Homo sapiens: one gene and its partner. The protein of the gene in region 2 interacts with the protein of the main gene of each other region in a biochemical or structural test. Each region holds a gene or a part of one and is shown on either strand. Other genes may lie near its edges.

The links. The genes of interacting proteins can lie anywhere in the genome.
Region 1: of the proteins of CKB (region 2) and ARIH2, one has a biochemical effect on the other in vitro, tested with the Homo sapiens proteins (2 studies listed by BioGRID).

What each region holds. Positions count from the first base shown.
Region 1 is NC_000003.12:48,925,342-48,928,841, forward strand, and holds part of ARIH2 (E3 ubiquitin-protein ligase ARIH2), read left to right. Parts: exon of another isoform or gene 1-2,120; 5' UTR 2,121-2,217; coding exon 2,218-2,472; coding exon of another isoform or gene 2,473-2,514; exon of another isoform or gene 2,515-3,330; intron 3,331-3,500.
Region 2 is NC_000014.9:103,520,031-103,524,076, reverse strand, and holds the start of CKB (creatine kinase B-type), read left to right. Parts: upstream 1-1,246; 5' UTR 1,247-1,311; intron 1,312-1,571; 5' UTR 1,572-1,583; coding exon 1,584-1,776; intron 1,777-1,899; coding exon 1,900-2,054; coding exon of another isoform or gene 2,055-2,126; coding exon 2,127-2,259; intron 2,260-2,642; coding exon 2,643-2,814; intron 2,815-3,484; coding exon 3,485-3,608; intron 3,609-3,765; coding exon 3,766-3,955; intron 3,956-4,034; coding exon 4,035-4,046. UniProt on the Homo sapiens protein: Reversibly catalyzes the transfer of phosphate between ATP and various phosphogens (e.g. creatine phosphate).

The sequences.
Region 1 (3,500 bases), on a different chromosome or scaffold from region 2:
CGACCTCGTGATCCACCTGCCTCGGCCTCCCAAAGTGCTGGGATTACAGGCATGAGCCACCGCGCCCAGCTGATTTCTTTTTTTTTTTTTTTAAATGTGTTGTAGAGACATGGTCTCACTAGGTTGTTCAGGTGGATCTTGACCTCCTGGCCTCAAGGGATCCTCTCATCTCAGCCTTCCAAAGTTCTGGGATTATAGTTGTGAGCCACACCCTCAGTCTTTGTTTTAGATTATGGTTGGTTGTTTTTTTTCAGACAGATTACCTACTTCAAGTAGACTTTATATTTGCTTTTGTATTTAATCAAGATTTGTTTATATAAATTGTTTATGTACTGTTAAATCCAAATGCTCTTACACTTTAAGGTTCTATTAGTTTTAGATTTTTTTTTTTTTTTTGAGATGGAGTCTCACTCTGTTGCCAGGCTGCAGTACAGTGGCGGGATCTCGGCTCACTGCAACCTCCGACTCCCTCGTTCAAGTGATTCTCCTGCCTCAGCCACCTGAGTAGCTGGGGATTACACGCACGCACCACCACGTATAGCTAATTTTTGTATTTTTAGTAGAGATGGGGTTTCACCACGTTGGCCAGGATGCTCTTGATCTCCTGACCTCGTGATCCACCCGCCTTGGCTTCCCAAAGTGCTGGGATTACAGGCGTGAGCCACCGCACCTGGCCTAGTTTTAGATTTAAATCGCTAGTTGATATTGTTCCTTTCAGCTCATCAGTTGAAATGGTAGTTGTGTAGAAAAGTTAATGGGTGTTTGCCACAATCTTCTGTGAGTTGAAGTTAGGGTTTGTGACTGTTTCACTTTCTCAACTAGTATTCTCTTTTCGTTTATATGTAATTAAGTAACATTTCGCTGTTTGCGGGCTTTTCTTTTTTGAGATGGAGTTTCCCTCGTGTGTGTGTGTGTGTGTGTGTGTATGTGTGTACGTGTGTGTGTGACGGAGTTTCGCTTTTATTGCCCAGGCTGGAGTGCAGTGGCGCAATCTCAGCTCACTATAACCTCCGCCTCCTGGGTTCAAGCGTTTCTCCTGTCTTAGCCTCCCAAGTAGCTGGGATTACAGGTGCCTGTCACCACGCCTGCTTAATTTTTTTGTATTTTTAGTAGAGACAGGGTTTCACCATATTAGCCAGGCTGGTCTCGAACTCCTGACCTCAGGTGACCCACCCATCTCAGCCTCTCAAAATTCTGGGATTACAGGCGTGAGCCACCGCACCCGGCCAATGGAGTTTCACTCTTGTCATCCAGGCTAGAGTGCAGTGGCGCAATCTTGGCTCACTGTAAACTCTGCCTCCCGGGTTAAAGTGATTCTCCTGCCTCAGCGTCCCGAGTAGCTGGGATTACAGGTGCATATCACCACACCTGGCTAATTTTGTATTTTTAGTAGAGATGGGGTTTCGCCATGTTGGCCAGTCTGGTCTTGAACTCCTGACCTCAAGTGATCCACCCACCTTAGCCTCCCACAGTGCTGGGATTACAGGCATGAGTCACCACACCCGGCCAGTAGAACTCTTTAAACCTGAAAAATCAGTCAACTTTGCAGACTAGAGGAGGATGTTGAACACCTATGTGTGTTTTTTTTTTCTTTACCAACTATGCACCTATTTTTCAGACACCTAAAAGTAATGTCTGTGAAACAGTGGTTTTCTTTTTCTACATATTACAGCAGGAAGTGTTCCTATTTATGTACTGTCTGTATCAATACTAACGGGGCATGATAAGCAAAATTTTAAACTTTGGTAGTTAAACCTTTATGTTGCCTCCCCTCTGGGCTGCCAGCTGTGGGGATGTGCTTCTCCCTTAAGGACTTTGGCAAGAATAACAAGTTCATTGGAATTTGACTTTCTGACATAGAGCAGACAGCCTTGCCCTGTCATGCCAGGCCTTTCATGTGAAGTTACCATTTATTAGCTGCTTCTGTCTCTCCAGGGAAGGATTTCCCTTTTATAAGCCTGGGCCAGGGGGATGATAGTAAGATTCCCCATGTGATACCAGAGTTGGAATAGGCTGTAGTGAGATTAGGGCCAGGACTGTCCCATTTTGATTCTTGAATGGTTTCTGTTACAACTTGTCATGGGGAAAAAGTAACACTTATTTTTTTTTTCCTCCCTTAGAAGACAAAAATACTAATGCATTTGAGAAAGCGGTAGTTTTGGGGGGAGGGGGAAAAAGCAACTGCTTTCCTGATCTGCAACTTGGCTGGATGCTAAGATGTCAGTGGACATGAATAGCCAGGGGTCTGACAGCAATGAAGAGGACTATGACCCAAATTGTGAGGAAGAGGAAGAAGAAGAAGAAGACGACCCTGGGGACATAGAGGACTATTACGTGGGAGTAGCCAGCGATGTGGAGCAGCAGGGGGCTGATGCCTTTGATCCCGAGGAGTACCAGTTCACTTGCTTGACCTACAAGGAATCTGAGGGTGCCCTCAATGAGCACATGACCAGCTTAGCTTCTGTCCTAAAGGTGAGCAGTGTTGTAAACTCCAGTGTAATCCCCCCCAGTTAAATCTAAGGATGAGCTGTTGTTAATTAATGTCTCCTCCAGACTAATTGAATGGCCTTGTAGCTTGAAACCAAATTTAAGTGTATGTCAACATCATTTGGACATTTTGTTACATTTACTTTGTTTTCTAATATATGCATGTCTAAGGTCCTCAGATTCCCAAATTAGTAAGAATTAGAAAGTAGGGGTGGGACAGATTCAAGAAAGATGTACCATACCAGAAATGTGTAGTAGCAGAATTGCACAACTTTGCACGTTTCAGGAAGTGAGTTTTCAGAATTTTATGAGGTTGATACAATAAGCATCAGAATCACCATCTTCTGTACGACTGTGAGTGACTGATAAATGTCTTGAGAGTATACAGATCCCTCTGGTTTGCCCTGAATAGTCATTGCCTTTGGGCTAATGAGCTCATTTGTTTCATGTACTGATTTTAATAATAATTCTTTCTTATGCTTGTATTTCATTGATTTAGGGGGTGTTAGTATGGAAATTGTAAAGAATGAACAAAGTTGATTACCCCATCAGCAAGCATTTTATTTAACACATAAGCTAAAACATACCTTTGGATGTCTTGTACCTTAGGCCAGTTATTATCCTATTTACATTTTTTATGATCATTTTGACAGTTTCCCAACAAGCATGTTTCCTTCTCTAACACTGGCCATTATGGGAAATTGGAAATATTTCTCTTTAGTGTTTTCACTAATCTTTTTTCATGAATTGTTACTTGGATTTTGTTTCTGATTAAATTGGAGGTCAAAAGGGCACCTTGGCATGATGTCAACCAAATAAATTTTATTGGAACTTAAACAGAAATAACTAAGGTGTGCCTTGTATGATTTCTATAAAATTTGCTTTATCTACTAGTTTAGGGATTTTTTTTTTTTTCCCCAGATGGTTGGCAAAGGCTAATACCTTGAATTTAGATACTCAGGTCTTTATTAGCAACTGGCTGGAAGCTGAAAGCTAAGTTGTTTTTTTTTTTG
Region 2 (4,046 bases):
CCTGATGGATATTAACCCCACATCCTCCACTTCCCCCTCTTAACAGCTGCATAATATTCCACAGCAAGCAGATGCCTCCCTACCCTTGGCCACTCCCGCCTGATGGGGCATCGGGTTGTATCCAGTTATGTTTGTTTTTCCCTCCACAGATCTCTTGGTCCATTAGTGGAGAGAACTGAGACATCCTTTCTAAGGGCTGCATTCCTAGAAGGGGAGATTGCTGGGTCACGGAGTTCGAACATTGTTAACGTTAATAGATTCTGCCAAATTATCTTGCAAAAAGCATGCAGCAATTTAAGTTGCAGGCAGCGTGTGGACGCCTGTCTTCCCGCATTCCAGCTCAAAGCCAGCAATGGCTGGGGTCGATCTGGGAGTGTTGGGGGTAGGGGCAGGTGGAGTCACTGCTTAATTTGCATGATTCTGGTTATTCGTGAGATCAGTTTTTTTTTTTAATCGCACTTATGCTTATTGTTTATTAGCGTTTCCTCCCATCTTTGCCTGAAGTCTCCGGGGACTGCCTTTGGGGGTCGGGTAAACTTGTCCCCTGCGAAGAGGGCCCAGGGTTGGGGTCTGGAAACTCCGAGGCTGCACTTGCCAGCGGCCTCTTAAGGCCACAGCGTCCCCGTGGTTTCTGGCTCGCAGCCCCCCGAGACCCAGGACTTGTCCAAGGTCAGGGCACCGCGGGTGCCCCCGGGCTGGGCCGCAGCCAGACTGCGCTTCCCGCGCGCCTTCGCTTTGCACCAGGATCGCCCAGGAAACGCCTGCGGGCACCTTGAGGAAGGTCGGCGGCTCCGGGCCAGCTCGCACTGGCCGGGGGTGGGGCGGGGGCCGTACCTGCTGCGGAAGCCCCGAAAGCTTTCGCCCGGCCCCTCGCCGCCGCCGCGGGGGCTGGCTGGACTAGGCGGGCAGGCTCGAGGATGCGGATGAACCCAAGCGTCCTCGAGTGCCCGGAGGCTCTCCGCCTCAGTTTCCCGCCCAGAGGCAAGGGCGTGCGAGGGGATCCAGATATCCAAGGACCTGAGGTTTCGGCCTCGAGGTCTTGGGCGGGGGACTGGGCAGGCTGCGCGGGGTCCCAGCGAGGGGACAGCTCGGGTGGGCGGCCAGGGTGTTGGGGGCTGCGGGCGGCGGACAAAGCGGCGGCACCACCCCGCGGCGCGGGCCAATGGAATGAATGGGCTATAAATAGCCGCCAATGGGCGGCCCGCGTTGTGCCCCTTAAGAGCCGCGGGAGCGCGGAGCGGCCGCTGTTCGCCTGCGTCGCTCCGGGAGCTGCCGACGGACGGAGCGCCCCCGCCCCCGCCCGGCCGCCCGGTGAGTGGGCCCGGGGGCCGGGGGCGTCCGCGCCCGGGCTAGGGGCGCTGCGTGCAAAGGGGGCGCGTCGCCTGGAGCGCGCGCCGGACCGGCCGGGGGTCCCCGGCGATGATGGCGCTCCCCGCGCGCGCTGCGGACCCCGCTGACCTTGGCCGCGTCCCGGGGGGCGCCGGGGGGCCCGGCGGCGGGGGCCTGAGTGGTACGCGGGAGCCCGGGAACCCCGGCGTGCCGGTCCCCTCTGACCCCGCGTCTCCCCGCAGCCCGCCGCCGCCATGCCCTTCTCCAACAGCCACAACGCACTGAAGCTGCGCTTCCCGGCCGAGGACGAGTTCCCCGACCTGAGCGCCCACAACAACCACATGGCCAAGGTGCTGACCCCCGAGCTGTACGCGGAGCTGCGCGCCAAGAGCACGCCGAGCGGCTTCACGCTGGACGACGTCATCCAGACAGGCGTGGACAACCCGGGTACGCGACCCCTCGGGGCCGGGGTCCCGGCCCCCCCTCCCCCCGCGCAGCCGCAGGGTCCTCAGCAGCGCGCTCGGGCCCGGCAGTGACGTCACTGTCCCCGTCCCGCGCCCCCTCCCCCAGGCCACCCGTACATCATGACCGTGGGCTGCGTGGCGGGCGACGAGGAGTCCTACGAAGTGTTCAAGGATCTCTTCGACCCCATCATCGAGGACCGGCACGGCGGCTACAAGCCCAGCGATGAGCACAAGACCGACCTCAACCCCGACAACCTGCAGGTGCGGGGCTGCGGGCGGGCCGGGCGGGCGGGGCCGGGGTCTTCGGGCGCTCACTCCCGTCTCGCCTCCCAGGGCGGCGACGACCTGGACCCCAACTACGTGCTGAGCTCGCGGGTGCGCACGGGCCGCAGCATCCGTGGCTTCTGCCTCCCCCCGCACTGCAGCCGCGGGGAGCGCCGCGCCATCGAGAAGCTCGCGGTGGAAGGTAGGGGCCGGGCGGGCCGAGGGGCGGCGGCGGCCGCGTCCCCCTCCCGGCGCGGTCCCCGCCCGCTTTTGTTTACGTCGCCCGGGAGCGGCAGCCGCCGTCGCGCTCTTATCTGCGCGCGCCCGGGTTCAGTTTCCCGGAGGGACCGAGGGACGGAGGCCCAGCCCCGCGCCCACAGCGGCCTGGGGCCCAGGGAGGGCGGGTCCTGGCGCGGGGTCACCGCCTGGGACCGTCGCCCGGGCCGTGAGGACTGGACGCCCGCAGATCCGGGCGGGTGGGGCCCTCTGACGTCCCCCGAGGTGGGGCACGGGGGCGGGCGGGTCCGCGCTGCGGGCTGGAGGGGCGGGCGCGGGAGCCGAGCGTCCTGAGCGCACCCCTCGCAGCCCTGTCCAGCCTGGACGGCGACCTGGCGGGCCGATACTACGCGCTCAAGAGCATGACGGAGGCGGAGCAGCAGCAGCTCATCGACGACCACTTCCTCTTCGACAAGCCCGTGTCGCCCCTGCTGCTGGCCTCGGGCATGGCCCGCGACTGGCCCGACGCCCGCGGTATCTGGTGCGTGTCCCTCTGCGCCCTCTCGCGGCGTCCTCCCTCCCCGCTACCTCCGCTTTCCCTCTCGCCCCCCTCGCGGGGGTGGGGCCCCTCGCGGCGAGGAGGAGGAGGAGGAGGAGGGAGGGGCCGGCCGCGCTCCGGGTCTGGGTTCCGTGCCGCGCCTCCTCCTGCGCCGGTGACCTTGGCCGAGCAGGTGCGTTAAGGGACTGGGCCCCGGCCCGTGGGGGCTCAGGACTCAGCAACACCTCCCCACCCCGAGACGTGAGGTGGGGGCGGGGCTCTCTGGCGCCTCTCCCCGACGGCCCTGGGAGCTGGAGCTCTTTGTTTTCTTTTCTCACTCCTCCGCCGCTGGGATTCTACCAGGGGCTGGTGACGCCAAAGCTTCTCCAGGGGCAGGGCTCCTACCCCCACTGTGGGGGGCGGGTCGGGCTGTCCTGGCGGTCCCTGGCCCCGCCCCACCTCAGGCCACAGCGCATGATGGCAGCTGGGGTTCTCCTGCTGTGAGGCGTCCCGGTTCCCCCGCCCGCCCCGTGTTGGCGGGTGGAGTCTTGGCAGCAGCCTCCACTCCTGGGCATGGCAGGGAGCAGCACCTCAGGGACTTGGGAAGTTCCTTTGGTCTGGGGGCGGCCTGGGGCTTTTTTCTGGGTATGCCCTGAGACCAGCCCTCCCGCAGGCACAATGACAATAAGACCTTCCTGGTGTGGGTCAACGAGGAGGACCACCTGCGGGTCATCTCCATGCAGAAGGGGGGCAACATGAAGGAGGTGTTCACCCGCTTCTGCACCGGCCTCACCCAGGTGCCAGGGACGGGGCAGGCCCAGACCCCAGGGCCCCAGCAGGGATGTGGGTGCCCCAGCATCAGTCCCCCCGGGGGATTTCCGGCACTGGGGAGTCTCAGGGCCTGTAGGGGTTTCAGGCAGGCCTTCTCCCTCATACCCTCTTCTCCGTCTGCAGATTGAAACTCTCTTCAAGTCTAAGGACTATGAGTTCATGTGGAACCCTCACCTGGGCTACATCCTCACCTGCCCATCCAACCTGGGCACCGGGCTGCGGGCAGGTGTGCATATCAAGCTGCCCAACCTGGGCAAGCATGAGAAGTTCTCGGAGGTGCTTAAGCGGCTGCGACTTCAGAAGCGAGGCACAGGTGAGCAGGGCAGGTGCTGCGGCTTCCCGTGGCCTTTGGGCAGCCCTGTTTCCTCCGCCCTGACTTGCTGTCTCCCCAGGCGGTGTGGACA